Linked DNA regions of Homo sapiens. The protein of the gene in region 5 purifies or fractionates together with the protein of the main gene of each other region. This does not show direct contact. Each region holds a gene or a part of one and is shown on either strand. Other genes may lie near its edges. The genes, in order: LRP1B, FBLN1, NUDT12, LRP2, ZNF517, PPP2R5E and NDUFAF7.

Region 1 (3,500 bases), on a different chromosome or scaffold from region 5:
TTTTTGTTAAACACAAAGCTTCAATTACATCCTGCTGGGACACCACTTGACTTTTTGGTTGTACAGGAATGGGCCAGGCCCTATAAAAACACATATTTATCTGTCATTTTCCTTCCAGGTTACTTAAAAATATAAAACACACAATAACTTGACATGCCCTAAAACAAAAAGGGATAATCTAATCTACAACCATAAATTGAAACATGTTCCAGTTTATTTTTTCTCAAAAACAATAACCATGATAATCAACATGTCCAGCATACACAAGTGCACAATATTTCTGTTTTGGATATTTCCTGAAATATAGTTATCAGGAGTCAGAAGAAATGGTTACACTATTGAGTTGATGTCCTGCCCTACAGTAGAAGTATATTTATGATAATGTAAGAAGAGAAATAGTTATCCCTGCATTACGCTACTTTCTAATGTAAAAATAAAGTGATGTTTCCCAATCTCATCTCATGATAAAAAAGCTTATGTTCATAATAATTGTAAAGCACTATGAAATAGATGTTCTGGAGATGTTATATGTCATTCATTAGCATTCTTATATAATAGTCAAATACATTAAAGCAAAAACATAAAAGCATGCAACTAAAATAAATCATGTACAGCTATGAGAATGAGTAGAGAAATGCATTATTTCTATTTAAGGAGAATATTGGGAGAATAATTGAATATATTACTTAGTATAATTAGATATTATATTAGATAAATTTTGTTTAAAAAGCAGGTGGGGAAAAGGTATGGACTTTCAAATATACAATGGTATTTACTTACAATCAAGCCACTGTTTGCTTGCCTTTTTTCTCTGCCATGGATCCTTTTGTAGAAAATTCCGCCTGGATTAAACTGAGTACTCCAAATAATCATATCTCTTTGATAATATACATCCATCCCTGTTATTCTTGAATTATGTTCAATATGAGAAATTTGTTGATGATCGCCACTGTAGTTGAATGGATATATAAAACCCAGGATATCAGTGTCATTAGCAATGTAGAGAACTTGATCTTCAGAGCCTGGAGATTATTATAATAAAATACAAAAATAAAGTAAATTTCAACTAATGTTAAAAGCAATAATTGTACTTTTAAATTATCTTGAATTATTATTCTTAATACAGTTTTTCCTCAAAAATCAACCAGTTTTATATTGTCTTTTAGTCTTTATGGCTTATTATTTCTGATACTCACTTATCTAAACATTTACAATAATTATTGATAGAGGTTTTTCTACTGCCAATCTTTCCTTATGGCTAGAAATTATGTACATATAAATGTCCTTTTATGAAGAGAGATTATTATTTGATAAGTCACAATACACTAGGTTATAATGCATCAATTGTCAATATCCAAGTACTATGTTGTATACTCATTAAGCTTCAAAAGTTTCTGATTACTTAATTTATGCACCTGAGTGATCATTACTTTAGGCTAAGAAATAAAAATTAAAATATGAAGAATCTTCCTCTTACTGTATTTATACATCTTAAATGCTTACTAACTTTTAACATAAAAAGATATCAGTATTTATTCCATTAAAGTTCTATAATCTCTAAATTATCTAGAATCCTGCTAAGTGTAACATTCTATTCTAAAGTTTTGACACCTACAATAGAGTACTAATGTCATTTTCATACTAACAAGTAAAACCCTAAAGCAAATGCCAAAATTATCAATTAAAATATTAACGAAGCCCTAAAGAGATGTTCGATTGCATACATAGTTTCTGCAAATAAATAATAATAATAATACCTCATGAGGTGCCTTTCAGCTCTGTAATGTTAATAGCTGTCACTTAGCAAATGCTTATTATGTGTCAGACGCTATGTTAAGCCTTTCACAGTTTATCTCCACTTCTTATAACTATGGAAACTGAACTGAGGCTCTGACACTTTAGTGAATTCCTTGAGGCCACACAGTCTAAAAGGTGCTGTGCTGGGATTCAAATCCAAGCATATCAAATGCTATAGCCCACAGTTGATCCATTACATCATCCTGTTTTCTTCTTGTAATAACAATCTTAATAATGTCCAATCATACTTTGTAGCCAACAATATTGAAGTTACAGTATTATTTAGCATAAACACATGAATATTAAAATCTATACCTACAATTGCCCAGAACCCTAGTTTATCATTTAATCTTTTTTTGTTTGTTTGTTTTTCTTTTTTTGAGATGGAGTCTTGCTCTGTCACCCAGGCTGGAGTTCAGTGGCGCAATCCTGGCTCACTGCAACCTCTGCCTCCTGGGTTGAAGCGATTCTCCTGCATCAGCCTCCCAAGTAGCTGGGACTACAGGTGTGTACCACCACGCCTGGCTAATTTTTGTAGTTTTAGTAGAGACGGGGTTTCACCATGTTGGTCAGGTTGTTCTTGAACTCCTGATCTCGTGATCCACTCGCCTTGGCCTCCCAAGGTGCTGGGATTACAGGCATGAGCCACTGCACCAGGCCTATCATTTAATCTTTTTAAAAAATAATATTGGTAAGTGGAGGACTTCTAAATTTGAAAGCAAGATCTTGTTTTAAAACCTTTAAAATCCTTACTCAAAATTCCTTTCTCCTTATAATGCTAATGTTTATTTTTATCCCTGGGGTATAATTTTTCTCATATTCCCTTAGAGCAGACCATCAAGAGAGATACTTCACATTCTATCACACTGGCTTTTAAAATTTTACCCCTTTTGAAAAATTGTTTTGAACACAATGACACAATGTGATTTTAACAGTAACCATATATTTCATAGTCATTTCCATAAACCATCTAAGATTAAATTCATTAATATTAACTAACCAACTGGCCAAATTAATCATCATTAAAAGTATTTTATCAGAAATGAAGCTGTTGCTGGAATGAAATATAAAACATTTTTCTCCATAAAATGTTTACAACAAAATTGTAATAGGATTTGCAATAGTGGTTATAATCTTACCTTCTGCTATGCAGGTGTTATTTCTTTCTTGAAAATTCTGGTCACACACACATTTATATGATCCTTCCACATTTATACATTGATGGGAACATGTGCCAAACACCAAACATTCATTAAGGTCTAGAAAAGAAGAGCTCAAAATAGCATCATCATACCCTCAATTCAGACTCCTATTCTTACCACGTTTCAAAAAAGCCAAAATTATTTTTAACTTATTACTAGCTTTATTGTCCTTTCACATCTTTAATCTGTGACCTGCTGTGTCATATTTTTGAAGGTATAATCATTTTTCACAATATTTGTAGTAGAAGATTTATCAATTGTCATTGCTTTTATTAATCCACTTAAAATATTAAAGCTTCAATTTCAAACTTCCCTGGGGCTTTCTTTTTTCTTTCTTAAAATTTTTACTTATTTATTTTTTTACCTTTTAAGTTCATGGATACAAGTGCAGGTTTGCTACCTAGATAAACTTGTGCCATGGGGGTTTGTTGTATAGATTTCCATTCACGCAAATAGACCTGTCTTGAGGTTTTCTTTTAAGCTGTTTCTGATGACCTACCT
Region 2 (3,500 bases), on a different chromosome or scaffold from region 5:
TGAACCAGCCGGGAGGAGGCAGCAAGAGAGAAGGAGCAGAAGGTACCTCTCTGGGAAGGCGAGAAGCATTCTCCCCACAGTTCCCTCCAGGCAGCTCTGGCCCCGGCAGCAACTTCCTACATCAGCCCAGTGCACAGAGGGGCATCCTCATCCTTCTGCAACATCCCACCCTGCTCCAAGGGCCTCCTGGGCTTCCAGGACGCATCTCCCCTGGTGTTCCTCTCACCCCTCTGGCCACCTGTCATGCATCCTCTGCACCTGGCATTTGGAACCTGGAGCTTCAAAGGCTGGAGGGTCCCAGGACGCTTGCTCTCCTCAGGCCAGCTTGTTCATGCCACACCAGCTCAAAGGTCCCTTCCTCCAGGAAGTCCTCCCTAACTACCGCCAATGCACACACATATGCACATATACACGCATGCACATGGGACAAATATGTTTTCTTTCTTGCATGGTCTCTTTGTACTCTGAGCTTCCCAGCACTTAGCACAAATAATTAACTCTGTACTTAGTGCCATGAGTCTGAGCCAGACACTGTCTCATTCTGCCTCCTGCCCCCATGCCTGCCCTAAGCAGTCATTCAATAAATGTCCGTGAATGAATGAACGCACAAATGATCTCACATGATCCTAGGTATTCTATAAAGTGGGGGCAAAGAGAGAATCACCAAGTTGCCCGAGGCCATGCAGCCTCTGCAGAGGCAGGCTTCAGATCCAGCTCTGACTGTAAAGCTCATACACACCCCACCATCACACTCCAAAGGAAACAGGCATCCCCCCCTGAACTAGACTTAAAGATTCAAGTCTTCTAAAGGTGCGTGAGGCTGGCTGGGCGCGGTGGCTCACGCCTGTAATTCCAGCACTTTGGGAGGCCAAGGTGAGCAGATCACGAGGTCAGGAGTTAGAGACCACTCTGGCCAACATAGTGAAACCCCGTCTCTACTAAGAATACAAAAAATTAGCCAGGCGTGGTGGCGGGCACCTGTAATCCCAGCTACTTGGGAGGCTGAGGCAGGAGGATTGCTTGAACCTGGGAGGCAGAGGTTGCAGTGAGCCAAGATCACACCCCAGACAGTGCAAGACTCCGTCTCAAAAAAAAAGATACGCGAGGCTGTCCAGTGTGCTGGTGAGGGGTATGACGTCAGGGCCAAGCTGCCCAAGCTCAAGTCCTGCTGCTGTCACTTAGCAGCTATGCACCCACAGTCTTGCTACCTGGACTCTCTGGGCCTCCATGTCCCCTCATTGATGAGGGGGACAATGACAGCACCTCCTTTGCAGGGCTAGGGTGAGGGTATAGCTAGGTAACACAGGTGAACTGGGGCAGGGGTGGGGCAGGAAGGTGCTCGAGTCCCCGTGCTGTGGGGAGACCATGCTGGGTGCACAGGTGTTGGATTTCCATCCTCAACCTATCACACGCATCAGTGACTCTCAGAAATGGCACTGTGCAGGTCCATAGAGGAGTTCTAGGCCAAAACAAGAAGCCGGGCTTCATACCTAGGTAGCAAAACTCACAGGACCTTTTCACTCCAGTGGGTAACAGGATCCAAAATGAAAAACAGGGCCAGGCGCAGTGGCTCACGCCTGTAATCCCAACACTTTGGGAGGCCGAGACAGGTGGATCACTTGAGGTCAGGAGTTCAAGACCAGTCTGGCCAACATGGTGAAACTACATCTCTACTAAAAATACAAAAATTAGCCAGGTGTGGTGGCGCATGCCTGTAGTCGCAGCTACTCAGGAGACTGAGGCAGGAGAATGGTTTGAATACAGGAGGTGGAGGTTACAGTGAGCCGAGATCACACTACTGCCCTCCAGCCTGGCCGGCAGAGTGAGACCCCGTCTCAAAAATAATAATAAAAAATAAAAATAGGTTCAAAACAACACTGGATCACCTATTTCGTAGGGCTGCTGAGATGACGACATTGGTTACTAAATGTAAAGCATTTCACCTATAATAATTACCCAGAGGACACTCACATCTTATAGTGAAGGAAACAGAGGCAGAGAGTTTGTGGGTGTCATCAAGATCTCTCCAGACACTTTCAGAATTGGGACCAACACACAGCTTCCTAACCCCCTTCTCATGTTGGCTCCGCACAGTGTAGTAACCCGCAAATAACCTGTAGGAAGCTATGGCGACTGGTGCCTCGCTCCCTCCCACCCCAGCCTCTAGTTAGGACCACTGTGGGGTTAAAGGAGGTGGGGCCCAGCCCAGCTCTAGGCCCAGCCCCAGCCCCGCTCCTCGCTGGGTGACTTGTGGCAGATGACTTAGCCAGTCCTGAGCTCCCCTCCAGCCTGAGGGGGTCTCCTATCCCAGGGAAGTTGACACAGTGGTTCCCCCCTCCCACCCTGTTTACTTATAGGGCCACATGTGAGATCATCACAAGGAAACTGGAACCATATGGGGCCTACGAAAGGATTCATTCATCAAATTGTTATGATTTGCTATTCTGCAAAAGGAAAATCTTGTTGTATAAAATATGCTGGCAAAATAACTACATGCCCTCTTAGAACTGTTCTAATAAACTTCACCTGGAAGGCGGCCCTGACCAGGTGCCCAGTGCTCAGAGCCCGGGCTTAAAGTCTCACCAGGTCAGGGAAGCTGCTGGAGAAGTCTCTAGACAGCACAGTCTCCCCCAGTGGTGAGGAGGGGGTGGAACTGGAAGGAACTGGAAGTGGGTAGAAGGAGGGGGTTTCCCTGGAAGTCTCGTGTTTTCTCTTCCTTCCAGGTATTTGGCCCTGCCATTTCCCCTGCCAGGAACACCCTTTCCCCCATCCTCCCAGCCCTACCCACAGACTTAGCCACTGCCTTTTCCTCCTTAGGTTCCCAGTTTGCATGCCGCTTCCTCCGGGAAGTCTTCCCTGACTCTGCCAGTAGGGCTCAGTTCATTTTTCTGGATCTCCTAGTTGCATGAGGGGGAAAAACTGGGTCTCTCTCCTTTCCTGCCACATCCACAAGTTATAGAGCAGTGTCTGGCACTGAGCTGTCCCTTAGTGAATGAATGACTGAATGGCTAAGAACACCACCTTTCCTGACACGGGTTTGGCACTGACGACTACCAGTCCTATAGCCCCATGGGGCCTTCTGCTCAGCGCCTGGCTGGGAAATTCAGTAGTAGTAGAATGTGCAGAGGCATCTTGGGGAAAACAATTCTGGGGTATTGGCAGAATTGCGCTCTTCCCGCGCTCCCCTCACATCAAGCCTCATCTCCTCCAAGGAGCCGCCAGGGAGCCCCCAAGGGCTGCGAAGGCTCCTGGTGCCAACACTTCCTAGAGAAGGGGACAACAGGAATAATAGCTAACATTAATAACAGGGCTGCCAGCCGGCACGGTGGCTCACACCTGTAATTCCAGCACTTTGGGAGGCCGAGGTAGGTGGATCACCTGAGGTCAGGAGTTCGAGACTAGCCTGGCCAAGATGGTGAAACCCCATCTCTACTAAAAGTACAAAAATTAGCTGGGCGTGATGGGCGCCTGCAATCCCAGCTGCTGGGGAGGCTGAAGCA
Region 3 (2,218 bases), on a different chromosome or scaffold from region 5:
TGTTATGTGGGATTAATTTGGCTTATTAACAAACTTATTCTTCCTCCTTCCATCTTGGTCTCTCCCTTTGTTATCCTATTATTTTCTGTCTTCAGCCAAATCCCTAACTGGGTCTTTAAAAGAATTTCTCATTTTTCCAACTAAATAAAATATGTGGGCTTCTAACTCTTCATGTTCCATCAACATGTGAAAATATCAAAATCCAACAATTAGCAGTATTAGACAAGTAATAAAAATTAGATATATCGCTTTAAACCTGAAGAACAAAAATTATTGACTTTATATATGTATGTATATATGTAAGTCTGTTTGTATTTGACCCCAAACTATACTTTAAGATTCAAATCAAAGTTTTAAGTCTCCCAAACACAGACACTTTTAAAAAGGCTTTTGCATTTCTTGTACATTATCAATTCGAAACAGGTTAACGACTGAAATCCAGCTTTTCTCATTTTTCAGGACACTTGTCAAAACATGTTAAACACACACACAAAACAAAATAGATTTTAAAAATTTAATGTATTATTACATTCATTTCCAGTAGAATACATTCACGGCACTATCACATCTACTATTCTTTTGAACTGGCCATTCCTTCTATTTACATAGCTTTTCACCTCTCAGAGGTTGGCAATTTAAGAGTTGTTATTAAAATAATAATTTACCTAGATGCTGATTTTTTCCCAAGTAAGGATTAAATATCCAAAACAAAATGTATAACTACACTTGTTGATACTTTATATTCTACTTTCCTATTTTAACATTATGAAAACCTGGAATTTTACAATGTAATCTTAGAATCTGCAAGTATTAAAAGTACATTTAGAGTAAAACTGAATTTCAAGATGCTCTATTTCATAATAATCAAGGTACATTATTTTCCATATACTTATGTAGCTCGAATTTTATTATGTATCTAAATGTCCTCTGTCAGTTTTAATTTGGTTTAAATTCTTGATACCAATAAGCCTTCATCAATTCCTAAGAAAATCACTGCTCATTAGTAAAATAAAGTTTTATCTGACAGTTATCTTTTATTTAAGTTAAATAAATGTTAAGTATCTAAAATTTTAATTAACAATATTTGGTAAATTAAATTTATTCTTATCATTCCTTCTTTTAATTTTGTCTATATATATTTTTAGTAATAGCTTCTAGTTCCTTTTACAGGGAGAATCGTCCTCTGCATTATATAGTACAGACTGTTGTAATTAGTTATGTAACTTTCACTAATTAGGTAAATTCACCTTTCACAATTTCTTTTTCCTTATCTATAAAATAAGGAAAGCTAATTTCATATATTATCCTTAAGGTCTCTTGTAGCTCTAGCATACATTAGTAAAGATGCAAATTATACAAATTTTGATATTCATAAACTATAATAGCTATTAAATCAATTTCAAAATAGCCTTTCAAAATGTGACTTTCTATGTTGCAAAATTGTGAACTACTATGTTTTGCTTTCTCTAGAATCTTACTGATTCAGCTCTAAAATATACTTACTTTGTCAAGGCTTCTTAGAATGTGTTGAAATAAGGTCAAAGCCAAGATATATTTGAGCATAATAAATAGTATTGGTAATGATTATACAATTTTTTGTTAACACAGATACATCACTCATCACAAAATGAAATAAAGCCAATGTTTTAAATTAAATATGTAAATCTGCCTGGGACTTATTTAATATCCGACCTTTGAGGAGAATTCCTTTCAAGTTTAATTTCAGTGCAAAAGCAGAGAATCTTGGTTTGTCTTAATAACAGCTTTAGGTATAAGTAACATATAAGTAGATATGTTAATTAATTTTAGGTCTAAAAGAGAGGTCCCAGATATAATAGTATGCTTTTCTCCTTCCATGAGGGTGTGGTATTGAGATCACTATTAAATTATTAAATTAGAAAATTCTTAACACTGGTCAAATTAGACGAGTGGCGACACTATAACACCTCCACTGCTAGAACAATGGAACCCCCAGGAAAGAGCAAGTGGGACTACAATGGGGAGATGAACAAAAACCATATATTGACAACTTAAAGGTAACAAAAGGACTAAAAAATCAATGCCAGCTAACTCAAGCTAATACAAGCTAAAAATTCATTAAAATTACTTTGATTCATTTCTCAAATCAGGAACTTTCTTCATCATCAGTTTAATGCTTACAAGAGGCACTGAAATTTATGCACATTTCTAGAACATCTTTCCAACATGATGTCTCTTA
Region 4 (3,500 bases), on a different chromosome or scaffold from region 5:
CACAACATGAAATTATATTAAATACACACTTATAGGGTATGAAAGCTAGAAGGGATCTTAAAGCTCATCTATTCCAAATGATAGTGACTTGCCTAGTCAGGCAACCAGGACTAGAACTTAGCCCAGGGAACTTTGCTCCATCTTAAACTATTATTGAAGACATGAAATAAAACAACAAGCTAAAGGAAAGCAGAACTGGCAAGATGGAAAACAGGTGGATAAGATCAAAGGAAATTTAAATTTTCTGTGCCTCTTTATTTTGATGTCTTTTTGCTTGTACCAAATGAAAAAGAAACATCAATAGCCAAAGGTCTGGATATATCTATATGACTTTTAGTATTGTTTTAAATATATAAATAGATAGCTGAGGGATTTTCACTTTTTCAATTCCTATCTGAATTGAAATGTTTGGCATCAGAGGCAGTCCTTGCTTTGCTTCCATAGAACTCAATATTTGTAGGTGGACTCTAAGAATCCCATGTGCAGGCACGTGCCTTTGTTCTTGTAACCTATTGACACAGAGATTGACAAGTGGAATAGAAGTACTAAAGAGACAATGAAAATTGCATGAGCCTTAGAGGAAAGAATGCAAGGCCATTTGGTTGTTGAAGTCTATTTACGAGGCTGACCAACCAAGGGAAACCAGCTCAAAACTTACTGCAGTTCTTTTCATCAGATCCATCCCCACAATCATTGTCTGTGTCACAGACCCAGTTCTTTGAGATACACTGGTGATTATCACAGGTGTATTGGGTGTCAAGGCAGGAAGCAGGTGCGTGGGTGGGGCAGTTGTGCTCATCACTGCCATCCACACAGTCGTTGCGTTTGTCACAGCGCCAGTGTGCAGGAATGCACTCCCCATGGCCACAGGTGAACGCCGAAGATGAACAGGTATTATCTACAATAGTAACAAACTGGTCATGAAGACATTTGTTTTTACAGCCTTTTAAATGAGTTCTTGCCTTATAAAGGCTCAGTTCACCTTTTTTAATGGAGGCATTGTATATAATAAGGAGAAATGTTCATCAAGTGATGTCATCATCACTAACATCATTATTGGCTGGCATTTATTTGGTATTTATCATAGAAAAGGCATTTTTCTAAGTTATGCACCCACACACATCATATAAGTTCTCTTTAAATCCTCACAAGAATACTATAAAGTACATATAATTGTCTGCATTTTACAGATAAGGAAATTGAGTCTTTGAGAGATTTAGGAACCTGCCTATGATTCACGCTCTGGTTGGATTCACTCTAAAGCTCATCCTTAACTTTCAAGCTGTTACTTCCTCCAACCACAATTTCAAATTCAGACTATAGAAAGCTTGAAAATATGTCATATGAAAAGTGCAAATAGATAAAATATTAAGGTAAAATGCTGTGCTCTTAGAAACAAGAAGATAATACACAAAAAGATGAAAATTTAAAAAATTTCAGAAAAATGTACAAGTGAGCACTTTACTCTTGCAAATCTGTCACTCCTCTTTCTCTCCAAAAGAAAGGTTATTATTAGTATTAACTTCACCTTGATAGAGATTTCTGAGATTTCAACTGTCCTCTATCTTTTTTTTAATTTGAATGTAATACTTTTGCCTTCTGCAATAGTGTTTATTAGGCCCCAAACTATATAGACTAGATTACCGTCAAAAGAAGAATATAAAGGTTAAGACCACCATTTCATTGTTAATTTATTTTACTCTAACATGGGAGAAAAGGAATATAACACATGAGATTTTCCAAAGGCTATGATTGCAAGTAGTTATTCTGTGATACTATTCTCTCGGTTGCTAAATGTTAGGTCTACTTTATTTTTGGTTTTTGTTGTTGTTGTTGTTTGTTTGCTTATTTTTTTGAGGCAGGGCTTCACTCTGTTGCACAGGCTGAAGTACACGGCACAGTCTTGGCTAACTGCAGCCTCAACCTCCCCAGCTCAAACAACTCTCCCACCTCAGCCTCCCAAGTACAAATTTTTGTATTTTACAAATTTTGTGAAAATACAAAATACAAATTAGCTGGGTGTGGTGGCATGTGCCTGTAGTCCTAGCTACTTGTAATTTTGTTTTTTTTGTATTTTGTAATTTTGTATTTTGTAATAGTCCCAGCTATTTGTAATTTTATATACATATTTTTTTCTGAGCTCATCTATTTCTTTTTTATTTATTTATTATTATTATACTTTAAGTTTTAGGGTACATGTGCACAATGTGCAGGTTAGTTACATATGTATACATGTGCCATTTTATATTTTTTGTAGAGACCGGATTTCGTCATGTTTCCCAGGCTGGTCTCAAACTTCTGGACTTAAGCAATCCTCCTGTCTCGGCCTCCGATTACAGGCATGAGCCACCTTGCCTGGTCAGATCTAGTTTATTTCGATTTGACTTTTTGAGGAGTTTGCCAAGACATAATGACTGCATTGGTCCAAACAGCCAATGTCAAGGAAAAAAATTGTTGAAGATAGTCTAAATCAAGGCCAGAAACCATCCATAACATTATGAATGAAATTTCTTGCTTAGCTTCCTAAAAGCCTTCAAAGTGCATGTTAAGAATCTGAAATTCTAAAAGATATTTTTCCCATATAAATAGCCCAAGCTTTTATTTATTTTCTTTAAAGCCCACCTCTACTCTATTCATCCCAGGAAATATCGCCAGTGCATAGCTACTTACTAAGTGTGCCACATAGTTGCTCATCACTGTTATCATGACAATCATCGACTCCATCACAGAGATAGTAATTGGGCACACATCTGCCATTTTTACAGGGGAAGGAAAATAAGCCACACTGCTCTGTGGGTGGTTCATTGGTTGGGTCCCCCTCGCATGTCAAGTGATTGGAAGCCAGCCTCATTCCATAAGGGCACCCACACACTCGCTGGAAATTTGGCACCGGGAAGCAGAAGTGGCTGCAGTCACCGTTAGGATGCGTGGGTTGATTACAGGCGTTAGAACCTGCAAAAGCAAAGCCCCGAGGGAGTCAGTCATGTACATTTTCACTAGGTAGGTCACGGGTTTGATTTGTGAAGGAAAACAAACAGGACAAAACATTTTTCAGACCCAATACTAAAAAGTAGCTTCCTCTTGGAAATCAACCCGCCAAATACAACATTCCATTTAGGTATGGAAAAGTCCCAAAATGTGTTTTTCCTGACAACATGTTTAAGGCTAGCAGCATTGAACAGAGATTTCAAGTCTTACACTCTTAGATTATGTGAACGACAAGAATATAAAACTACCAGGAGCTAGACCTTTAAGTAATAAGTACTTAAAGAGAACAGGAGCCACTGTAACAAATAAATAAACCCATACAAAAAAATAAAAAAAACTGGGCAATCTCACTCACCAGTCTGGATGTTGACATCATACGATTTCAAATGCAGTATGTAAGCAATGCCACTTCGGATAACTGTCATTTCTCCACCATCTGCTTTCCTGACTCGAATAATGGCACCCAGTCTCCAGTCAGTAAAAAATAAATGCTCTGAAAAGAAACATGGGTA
Region 5 (3,500 bases):
GTTCCAGCTACTCGGGAGGCTGAGGTGGGAGGATTGCTTGAGCCCAGGAAGTTGAGGCTGCAGTGAGCTGAGATCACACCACTGCGCTCCAGCCTGGGTCACGCATTGAGACCCTGTCTCAAAAAAAGGAAAGAAAAATAGGAGAAAAAGAGGAACCACTCATAATTCTATGACGCAGAGAGAGCTAGAGTTTTATGCTACCAGCTTTATTTTTCTGCTTACAGTCTGCTTGTTTCATGTAGTAAAATGCAAGAATGTTTTCTGATGTTCCCACAACATGGTTTTATTGGTTGCAGAGTCACCCATTGTTCATTTCATAATGAGCAATGTTGCCCAGGCCGGAGTGCAATGGTGCAACCTTGGCCATCCTGGGAGGAAATCTTAAGCCCAGGAGGCAGAGGTTGCAGTGAACCAAGATCACACCACCAACTCCAGCCTGGGCGACAGAGCGAAACCCCGTCTCAAACAAAACAAAACAATAATTTTGCTCTAACCAGTCACGCTTTGTTCATTTCATAAATCCTTTCTGAGCACATGCTGTGTGCCAAGCCCTTCCTCAGGCCCTAGGGGTACAGACCAGAGGCCTTGTCTAATTGGGGAAGGCAGATAAGGAGCAAGGAAGTTAACTTGTCTTATGTCAGATGGCATAGTGCTATGGAGAAAAATAAAGCAAGGAGCGAGGATAAGGAATTCCCAGGCAGGAGGGGAGGTGGCAGTTTAAAAAATGGTGGTCACAGAAGGCCTCCCAGCAAGGTGAGAGCCAGAAAACATTGGAAGGAGTGGGTGTTCCCATGGAGAAGCTTGGATACACCTCCTTGGGACGTGAAGGAGGCGGCTGATGTGATTGCCCTAGCACTTTACCCTCTCCTGCTCCCTTCTGGATCTGGAGGGGCCTTCTGGGGGGCTGGAGGGCCTTAGGCCTGGGCTCTTTCCACTCATGGCTCTATGTTCCCTCAGAATTCACTGTCTGTAGCATCTGCTCCTCCACAGAGGGACCCTGGAATGGCGATGGCACTCCCGATGCCTGGACCTCAGGTGAGCACCCCCTGAGCCCGTCCATTGCCCCAGGAGACTGCTTCGCCCCTAGCCTCAGCTTTTCAGCCCTGAGAACCTTACAGCTTGCCTCACACCCACCCACATCACAGGATGGAGTCTGCAAGCCGAGGACAGCCTCCTCGCTCTATGGCCAGGCCTCACACATGGCTCTGCCAAATCCTTCCAGCCTTTGGGCAGAAGTGGGCTTCCTGCGGCCTCCTCTGGCCCCTGAGCTTCTATGGTCAGCCATTGAGGGCAGGGTCCCTGTCCTTCCCCAGTGCCTGCCTCCTTCCTGGTGTGAATGGTCAGCCCATCCTCCCTCTCCTGATGCTGACTCACTGCTGGTGTTAGAAATTGAGACCCAGAGGGTGGGGATGCTCCCCACAGTGCAGGTGCTCCTTCCCCAAATCCCTGATAGCCTGTGGAGAGGGCGAGGCCAAGGTTGGGACCCCCTTCCTGGTAAATCTCTCTCCCTCCCCCAAGTTCAGTTTTTCCCTCTTCCTCTCTGGGGCTTCTGCTGAGAATGAGGCCGCTCACTCGGGGGGTGTTGGGCTGCCCTTTCTCTGCTGGGCCCTGTGGATGCAGCAGTGGGCAGCAAGGAGAGAGGCCTCTAGCAGATCATGCAAATGTTTCTCATCTGCTGGGTTCTCACCGAGCCCTTGACTGCCTGGATAGCAGAGTATGTGGTTGCAGGAGGCGGTTGTGTTCGAGGATGTGGCTGTGTACTTCACAAGGATAGAGTGGAGTTGCCTGGCCCCCGACCAGCAGGCACTCTACAGGGACGTGATGCTGGAGAACTATGGGAACCTGGCCTCACTAGGTGAGGGCTTCTGCCTTTGGTCCTGGGGCCGGGAGGTGCGTCTGTGTTAGCTTCAAAGGAAGTTGGTTCCATTGCAGATTCAAGGTCTGACACATTTTTGAGGGGAAGCTGGAGGCTCCCCAAGGAGCCCCTCTCTGCTTCCTGTTGGGCACCCACTGCCAGCGTCAGCCTGCCTGAGGCTTCTCTCCTGGGGCAGGCCCCCCATCTCCCCCTGGCCACCTAGCTGCCCCCTTCTGGGATAGTGAATGTTCCTGACCCACTCCAAGCACTCTGTGCCCTGATGGCCTCCAGCCAGGCACCTGGGCGTCCCTTCTCCCTCCTGTACTGATACGTGCTGCTTTCCTTCTCTGAGCTTAGGCTTTCTTGTTGCCAAACCAGCACTGATCTCCCTATTGGAGCAAGGAGAGGAGCCGGGGGCCTTGATTCTGCAGGTGGCTGAACAGAGCGTGGCCAAAGCCAGCCTGTGCACAGGTGAGTACAAAGCACCCACAGGGCGTGTCCTGTGCTGCCAATGTGGCCTGGCCTCCGGGCAGCTCTGCAGGTCCCTTCTTCTACAGTGGGAGGTGTGTATGTTTAGCTCCTCACAGCAGGGCCAGATTTCCTACTAACTGCCTTGCTTGTAGGTCTAAGGTCAAAACTAACTTATGCAGGAAGACCCAAGTGCGAGAGTTTTCCATTTTGGTGTCCCCAAGGTGTCAGGGGCCGGGTCTGTGCTCACAGTGCCATTACCCTTGGGTTGTGTAGGGACCAGCCCTACAGGGTCTGTGGGTTTTTCTCCTCATGTGCAGAGACGAGAGATCATAGAAATAAAGACACAAGACAAAGAGATAGAAGAAAAGACAGCTGGGCCTGGGGGACCACTGCCACCAAGACATGGAGACTGGTAGTGGTCCTGAATGCCTGGCTGCGCTGTTATTTATTGGATACAAGGCGAAAGGGGCAGGGTAAAGAGTGTGAGTCATTTCCAATGATTGATAAGGTCATGTGAGTCACATGTTCACCGGACAGGGGGTCCTTCCCTGTTTGACAGCCGAGGCGGAGAGAGAGACAGGACAGCTTACGCCATTATTTCTTCTATGCATTTTAATGACTTTTAGTACTTTCACTAATTCTGTTACTGCTGTCTAGAAGGCAGAGCCAGGTGTACAGGGTGGAACATGAAAGTGAAACAGGAGCATGACCACTGAAACACAGCATCACAGGGAGACGGTCAGGCCTCAGCATGGCTGTGGGCGAGTTTGACTGATGTCAGGCCTTCCACAAGAGGTGGTGGAGCAGAGTCTTCTCTAACTACCCTGGGGAAAGGAAGACTCCCTTTCCAGGTCTGCTATGTAACTAGTGCCTTCCCAGGCACTGGGGTTACTGCTAGACCAAGGTCAACTAAGTAACGGGCGTCTTCCCAGGCACTGGCGTTACCGCTAGACCAAGGAGCCCTCTAGTGGCCCTGTCCGGGCGTGACAGAGGCTCACACTCTTGTCTTCTGGTCACTTCTCACTGTGTCCCTTCAGCTCCTATCTCTGTATGGCCTGGTTTTTCCTAGGTTATAATTGTAGAACAGAGATTATTATTATTATTATTTTTGAGATGGAGTCTCGCTCTGTCGCCCAGGCTGGAGAGCAGTGGCGCGATCTCAGCTCACTGCAAG
Region 6 (3,500 bases), on a different chromosome or scaffold from region 5:
AGTCTCAGATTCTTCATCCACAAAATAGAAAAGTAATGGTACCAACTCTGTTGGTTGTGAGGAAATGAGATATTATATATGTGGGACACTTAGCACAGTGCCTGGCATATAGTGAACATGCAGTAATGATTGTTTTCTTTGTACTCTCAGGGTCTGGTGCCTAATGAGTCTCAGGGTTTTGTTTTGTTTTTTGAACCAAGCTGAATAATGTAAATGGAAAAATTCTGTTTTCTCAGTGTCTTTCGGTAGATACATCTTATACCATTTTGTTCTCTTCTAAAACAGGGCTTCTTAATCTGTATAAATGAAGGAAGCCACCCCTTTTTCCCTTTTCCCCTGTAACTACCCTTTTTAGAGATTTTAGGTTTTGTTTTTGAGATGTTCTTTTGAATTCATGAAATCCAAGATGAGCCAATCAGGCCCAGCAGACCAAATTAGAGCCAGTTGATAGCATGGTGGGCAGAGAAAAGGGATCTAAGAGAGCAGAGAGGGTAGGTGCAGCCAGTGTCCCTGAGACCAGAAACTGAGCAGACATCTCCTGGCTTGCACAGGAAGGGACCAGAAACAAACTCTGGAAGAAGCCCTAGAAATGAGGCCCCAGTCTTTACCATATTGTCAGTGTAACCTTGCCTACATTACTCAGTCTCCCTGAGTCTCTGTGTCCTCACCTGTAAAATGAGCACAATGGTATCTCCTTCTGGGATGGTGGTAAGGATGATACATTCTACTTGCTGTGTAGGCACAGTGCCTGCCCATAGGAGGTACTTAGTAAATATTGGCCGCTCTACAGGGATGAGCAACTGTGGGTGTTCCTCAGTAGCTGTGACTGAATGCTAACCATATGCTGGGCCCTGGGTTCGATCTAAGTGTGTGTGATGAAAAACATAAGAAAGGGGACCAGTGAGATGTGCTAAAGTGATGTCAGGAAAGTGTGGAATCAGATGACATGGGCAGAATTAGAGAAGAATATAAATTAACAGGAAAACTTCTTTTCCTTCCCTGAGTCGATGAACCACTTGAACCACTCTGGACTTTTTTTTTGGTGGGAGGAGAAGACACGGTCTTGCTCTGTCACCCAAGCTGGAGTTCAGTGGCATGATCTCCACTCACTGCAACCTCCGCCTCCCAGGCTCAAGCAGTCCTCCCACCTCAGCCTCCCAAGTAGGTGGGACTATAGGCACATGCCACCAATCCCGGCTAATTTTTGTGTTTTTGTAGAGGCGAGGTCTCCCCATGTTGCCCAGGCTGGTCTCAGACTCTTGGGCTCAAGTGATCTGCCTGCCTTGGCCTCCCAAAGTGCTGGGATTACAGGTGTGAGCCACCGTGCCTGGCCCACTTTGGAATTTTCCAAGAGATTAAAAATCCACAAACATTTAAAATGTGGGCCAGGCACGGTGGTTCACGCCTGTAATCCCAACACTTTTGGGAGGCTGAGGTGGGCGGATCACGAGGTCAGGAGATCGAGACCATCCTGGCCAATGTGGTGAAACCCCGCCTCTACTAAAAATACAAACATTAGCTAGGCATAGTGGCATGTGCCTGTAATCCCAGTTACTCGGGAGGCTGAGGCAGGAGAATCGCTTGAACCCGAGAGGCGGAGGTTGCAGAGAGCCGAGATCGCGCCACTAGCGAGACTCCCATCTCAAAAAATATATATATATTAAAATGTGATTAATATTTAATTTTACCTCTAATTGAATGATTTACAAATAGCCTTTTGAAATACTTTTGTTTGGAAAGATTTATAATTTTGTTTTATCTTTGTCTTTTTCTCTCTCTTAACATTTTATTTTTCTTTTCCCAAAGGTGGCAGAAAGAGCACTCTATTATTGGAATAATGAATACATCATGAGTTTGATAGAAGAAAACTCTAACGTCATCCTTCCCATCATGTTTTCCAGCCTTTATAGGATTTCAAAAGAACATTGGAATCCGTAGGTTTTCAGTTTCTTTCCTCCGTTCTCTTCCTCCCTTCCTCTCTTTCTTTCCCTTCAGCCTTATTATGTGCCAGATGCTGTCCTTGTTGCTGAAGACGTATGTGAAAAGATAAAATCCTTACCTTCTGGGGATTCACTGACTGGAGAAAATAAACAGATACTTTAACAAAATACCGGTTAAAGTATCTGTTTACTAGACAGGCTTCTTGATCTGTCTATGAAGGTAGCAGATCTTTTGGGGAGGCACTGCAGCTGAGAGGAGAGGTGTGTAGATACTGACAGCATGGCCATGCTTAGACTGAATCTGAAAGGAATTTGGCAGGTGGATGGCATGGGGAGAGCCCTTTCAGACAGTGGGTCCATCCATCATGTTAAAAGGCACAAAGATGTAAAAAGCAGCTGTCAGTTTCTGAGACCTGTGAGTTTGGGAGGGCTGAGGCACAAGGTCTTTTGGGGAGGGTGCTAGAGGATGTGGCTAGAAAAGACTGTGGGACTCGTGTGAGCCTTCACCAAGTAGATGATGAGGAAGTACTGAAGGGTTGTTAAGTGGGGAAGTGGTCTGACTAGGTTTTCATTTTAGTGTGATCTATTTAACAGCCAACTCAGTCGCTATATGTATCTCTTGGAAAGGAAGGAGTTTAAAATCATCAAGGGAAGTTTAACATCCAGCCCTATGAAAGTTAAAGCATTCTGAATTTGAATGCCTTTACATTTTTCTCTGTGGAATAGAAGGAAAATTTAATGTGGTATTTAAAAATTGGGAGATACAATTCAGTATATTCATAATATGTTTATCTTTAAAAATTTTGCATGTAATTATAAAATATCACATTTCTAATTTTTCAAATTTGCCTAATTATATTAATAGAACTTGTAAAAATAAGGAGCTGATAAACAGTTAAGTCCCTTTATACAGATAGTCTCTTGAGGACCTAGAGAACGGTTCTAGCAAGTGTCTGTAACTACTCAGTATACTACATTTGGTGCTTTCCCATCACTGCCCTTGGGAGGAAGGTCATTCTGGAACCTTAACAGAAAAGAACTTAAATTTTCCTTTTAATGGCACAAGGCAGAAGCTACACAGCAAGTGTACTTTCTTGTAAATGTTTTGGAAACATCAGACTCATGGTTTATTTAATATATGGCTAATTTTTACCAATGCATTTTTCAGTGGTATTAGGAGCATGTTTGTTGCAAAACGGAAGCAACGGATATTTTTGCAAAAGGAAAAGCTATTTAGACTCTAGTCTGAAGCTATCAAGCCCATCATAACCTTGTCCTCACATTGCCCAAGAGCTAATTCTTGTTAAGTATGGGCTACCATTTTGGCTGTTTAGCTGTATAGTGTCCCATAGCTAATAGCAACCATCCCAGCTTGCCAGTTATCAGCATATATTTTGGGTCAGCAGGACTGGTGCAGATCAGAGCTAGACAGATAATTCATATTGAACCACCCAACCTACATGAGGGCTTGATTTCATTTCTTTGGATAAGAATAATTTATATATATACACATATATATATAACATTTGTTTCTAGGGAAGTAGCTTCTGATTTTGATGA
Region 7 (3,500 bases), on a different chromosome or scaffold from region 5:
CTTGATTTATTTTGAATGCTGAAGGGGGAAAGTTGAAGCTGGAAGAGAGAAGGGGACAGCTAAAAGGACTCAGGGGAGTTGTATGAGGAATGGTCCAGAGCACAGGCGGAGGGATTAGGTTTGGATGAGAGGAGAAGGGGAAGGCATTTCATTCTTGGAGTCCCCAGATTAGGTTAGAGGCCAGGTGGGGATGGGAAGCTGAGGAATTCGTATTTTATAACATTCTTTAATTCTGGAGTGAGACTGGGGCCCATGTCACCTGTAGTAAGGTGGTAGAATAGGAGCTTGAGAAGCATAAGAAATATTTAACTCAATTCTTGAGTGTTTCTTGAAGGTTAGGCATCGTGCTAAAACTTGGGATATGAAGATAAATAAGGCATGATCTTCTGCAAACAACTATACTTTGTGGTGAAGAACAGAGACAAATTAGCTCAGAAAAGGTGGCACTGGATTTGGCCTTAGGTTGGAGGGCTGGAGGAGGTCAGCTAGGTGGCATTTGAGCAGATTCGGAGGTTGAGTATAAGACTGCCAGGGAAAGTTGAAAAGGGAGAAGGGTGAGGATTTGCAGTGGCATGGATGTCTGGACAAGCAAGGCTAATAAGAAAAAAAAAAACAACCCTTTTTCTGGAGATATAATATTCATATAGAAAAGTTCATAAACCACAAGTTTACAGCTCAATGAATTTTCACAAAGCAAATGCTCCCATGTAACCAGCACCCAAATCAAGAAACAGAACATCACCAGCAGGCAGGGCCCATATGTGAGGCAGAAAGTGTTAGAATTTGGAGAGGAGGCTGGAGGAGTAGGCAGGGTCTTGCTGTGTTGGGTGTGGGAGCTGGGAGGGGAGGAAGGGTCTGGCGTGCAGAGATGGACGTTACATGACTTCTGCCTTTACGGTCAAGGTGTAATTGTTTTTCTACCGGTTTTGTAAAATGACTGTTACTTTGTAAAATTTGGGTAAAGACACCATATTTCCCTTGCTTATTTATTTATTTATTTATTTATTTATTTTTTGAGATGGAGTCTCACTTTGTCACCTAGGCTGGAGTGCAGTGGCGCGATCTCGGCTTACTGCAAGCTCTGCCTCCGAGGTTCACGCCATTTTCCTGCCTCAGCCTCCCAAATAGCTGGGACTACGGGCACCCTCCACCATGCCCGGCTAATTTTTTTGTATTGTTTTTAGTAGAGATGGGGTTTCACCATGTTAGGCAGGATGGTCTCAATCTCCTGACTTCGTGATCCACCCGTCTCGGCCTCCCAAAGTGCTGGGATTACAGGCATGAGCCACCACACCTGGCTCCCCTTGCTTATTTAGAGGAGAGAACTTTCTTACTAAATAATTATTTCACTTTTACATTATTTAAGATTTTGGAGGGGTATTTTTAAAAGGCTTATTTGAAAATTAATTTTGTTTCTCTATTTTCTCTTTTTACTCAGGGTTATTATGTGTACCGTGACATGCTAGGCGAAAAAGGAGATTTCATTACTTCACCTGAAATAAGTCAAATCTTTGGGGAGGTAATATACTATGTAAAGTATGAATGAAGCTAATATAAACATTTGAGAGCAGATCAAATTGTATTATTCTGTAGTAGTGTTCTACAGCTTTTTTTGTGATTCATCAAAAGTTTTAACTTTATAGTAGTTTATGTACTGAGGGAATAGAGAGGCAGTAGAGGGGAGTAAAATGGTAGAGAGAATATTTGAAAAGTTTATACTCCACTGTAGGAAGGGAAATGGAGAGATAAGAGGGACAAAGAGAAAGAGAAGGAAAGGAGGGGGTCATAAAGAGGACAGAAAAAGGAGAATCAGATGAAGGAAGAGAATGGAAGAAGGGGCCAGGCGTAGTGGCTCACACCTGTAATCCCAGCACTTTGGGAGGCCGAGGCAGGCGGATCACAAGGTCAGGAGATCAAGACCGTCCTGGCTAACACGGTGAAACGCAGTCTCTACTAAAAAAAAAATACAAAAAATTAGCCGAGCGTGGTGGCGGTCGCCTGTAGTCCCAGCTACTTGGGAGGCTGAGGCAGGAGAATGGCGTGAACCCGGGAGGCGGAGCTTGCAGTGAGCCAAGATGGCGCCACTGCACTCCAGCCTCGGCGACTGAGCAAAACTCCGTCTCAAAAAAAAAAAAAGAGAATGGAAGAAGGAAGAGAGACAAAAGGAAAGGCGAGGAAAGAGGTAGAGTGCCCAGGAGAGTGCCCGGGAAGGAAGAGAGAAAAGATAAAGAGCATTGAAGAATTAGTGGAATTAAGAGAAGCTCTAAAGCTCCCAGTCATGATTTTAGCCGTACTTACAGTAAAAGTCTTCTTTTATTTATCTATTTTTTGAGCCAGGGTTTTGCTCTTATTGCCCAGGCTGGAGTGTAGTGGCGCAATCTCGGCTCACTGTAACCTCTGCTTCCCGGGTTCAAGCGATTCTCCTGCCTCAGCCTCCCGAGTAGCTGGGATTACAGGCATGTGCCACCACTCCTGGCTAATTTTGTATTTTTAGTAGAGACAGAGTTTCTCCATGTTGGTCAGGCTGGTCTTGAACTCCCGACCTCAGGTGGTCCACCCGCCTCAGCCTCCCAAAGTGCTGGGATTATAGGCGTGAGCCACCACGCCCAGCCAAGTCTTCCTTTAATAAACAGAATTCTAATTCATTTCCACTAAGTACCTTCTATGAATTTAGAAATAGGAAATAGTGTATACGAGGAAGTAGAATGTGCGTATCGAAAAACATTAGTTATTATAAGAATCATGTAATTGTTTAAATCATATGAATATGAAGAAATGGCATAATCACATTTCATATGTTTATTTGCTTTCAAATACTAATACCTTTCTGCTAGTGATATCCTCTTATCTATGTCATGGGACCTTTTATAGCAGAGGCTGCCTTATTTTTTCCTATTAATCTTCCTAAATGGTGTATGTTATGATGTAGTCCCAGGAAGTTCCTATGTGAACATGTACGTATGTATTGAACAACATACATATGGCTGTACACATTTTGCTTTTTGGCATATAGTGCATATTTATGTGAAATTTTATATTGTGGTATACTTTTATACTTTATAATACTTTAATATGTGTTTTTTTTTTCCCTTTTCACAGCTACTAGGTATATGGTTCATTAGTGAATGGATGGCCACTGGAAAAAGCACAGCTTTCCAGCTGGTGGAACTGGGCCCAGGTAGGGGAACCCTCGTGGGAGATATTTTGAGGGTAGGTAATAAAAGAATGTCTTCTAGTCTCATATAAGTGAATTTTAGTACTTCTGAGTGTGCAAACCATGTTGATTTCATTGGTTTTCAGTTCCTTAATTTCATATTTCTCAGCTAAAATATAATGTCAGAATAATGTAATCAGTCATTACTTACTGTTGTCTGTAAACTTAAAAATTGGAGGGGAGGGGGAGAATATGAAAGCTAAAAATAGGAAACATTTAGAAGACATTATGGGAGAGTGTATTTGTTTCCTCAGGAAGGAAAGTTGTTAATTATATTAAAAGTTTA

Evidence for each region.
Region 1: the proteins of ZNF517 (region 5) and LRP1B purify together in Homo sapiens (affinity purification with mass spectrometry; 2 studies listed by BioGRID and IntAct, with this or other methods). This does not show direct contact.
Region 2: the proteins of ZNF517 (region 5) and FBLN1 purify together in Homo sapiens (affinity purification with mass spectrometry; 2 studies listed by BioGRID and IntAct, with this or other methods). This does not show direct contact.
Region 3: the proteins of ZNF517 (region 5) and NUDT12 purify together in Homo sapiens (affinity purification with mass spectrometry; 2 studies listed by BioGRID and IntAct, with this or other methods). This does not show direct contact.
Region 4: the proteins of ZNF517 (region 5) and LRP2 purify together in Homo sapiens (affinity purification with mass spectrometry; one large-scale study listed by BioGRID and IntAct). This does not show direct contact.
Region 6: the proteins of ZNF517 (region 5) and PPP2R5E purify together in Homo sapiens (affinity purification with mass spectrometry; 2 studies listed by BioGRID and IntAct, with this or other methods). This does not show direct contact.
Region 7: the proteins of ZNF517 (region 5) and NDUFAF7 purify together in Homo sapiens (affinity purification with mass spectrometry; 2 studies listed by BioGRID and IntAct, with this or other methods). This does not show direct contact.

Annotation. Positions count from the first base shown.
Region 1 is NC_000002.12:140,350,017-140,353,516, forward strand, and holds part of LRP1B (low-density lipoprotein receptor-related protein 1B precursor), read right to left. Parts: intron 3,057-3,500; coding exon 2,937-3,056; intron 1,023-2,936; coding exon 781-1,022; intron 1-780. UniProt on the Homo sapiens protein: Potential cell surface proteins that bind and internalize ligands in the process of receptor-mediated endocytosis.
Region 2 is NC_000022.11:45,505,883-45,509,382, reverse strand, and holds part of FBLN1 (fibulin-1 isoform D precursor), read right to left. Parts: intron 1-3,500. UniProt on the Homo sapiens protein: Incorporated into fibronectin-containing matrix fibers. May play a role in cell adhesion and migration along protein fibers within the extracellular matrix (ECM).
Region 3 is NC_000005.10:103,548,355-103,550,572, forward strand, and holds the end of NUDT12 (NAD-capped RNA hydrolase NUDT12), read right to left. Parts: 3' UTR 501-2,218; downstream 1-500. UniProt on the Homo sapiens protein: mRNA decapping enzyme that specifically removes the nicotinamide adenine dinucleotide (NAD) cap from a subset of mRNAs by hydrolyzing the diphosphate linkage to produce nicotinamide mononucleotide (NMN) and 5' monophosphate mRNA.
Region 4 is NC_000002.12:169,244,035-169,247,534, forward strand, and holds part of LRP2 (low-density lipoprotein receptor-related protein 2 precursor), read right to left. Parts: intron 3,482-3,500; coding exon 3,344-3,481; intron 2,953-3,343; coding exon 2,671-2,952; intron 899-2,670; coding exon 659-898; intron 1-658. UniProt on the Homo sapiens protein: Multiligand endocytic receptor. Acts together with CUBN to mediate endocytosis of high-density lipoproteins. Mediates receptor-mediated uptake of polybasic drugs such as aprotinin, aminoglycosides and polymyxin B.
Region 5 is NC_000008.11:144,801,913-144,805,412, forward strand, and holds part of ZNF517 (zinc finger protein 517), read left to right. Parts: intron 1-957; coding exon of another isoform or gene 958-1,002; coding exon 1,003-1,035; intron 1,036-1,728; coding exon 1,729-1,855; intron 1,856-2,212; coding exon 2,213-2,326; intron 2,327-3,500. UniProt on the Homo sapiens protein: May be involved in transcriptional regulation.
Region 6 is NC_000014.9:63,382,878-63,386,377, reverse strand, and holds part of PPP2R5E (serine/threonine-protein phosphatase 2A 56 kDa regulatory subunit epsilon isoform), read left to right. Parts: intron 1-1,806; coding exon 1,807-1,934; intron 1,935-3,500. UniProt on the Homo sapiens protein: The B regulatory subunit might modulate substrate selectivity and catalytic activity, and might also direct the localization of the catalytic enzyme to a particular subcellular compartment.
Region 7 is NC_000002.12:37,234,658-37,238,157, forward strand, and holds part of NDUFAF7 (protein arginine methyltransferase NDUFAF7, mitochondrial), read left to right. Parts: intron 1-1,438; coding exon 1,439-1,519; intron 1,520-3,099; coding exon 3,100-3,210; intron 3,211-3,500. UniProt on the Homo sapiens protein: Arginine methyltransferase involved in the assembly or stability of mitochondrial NADH:ubiquinone oxidoreductase complex (complex I).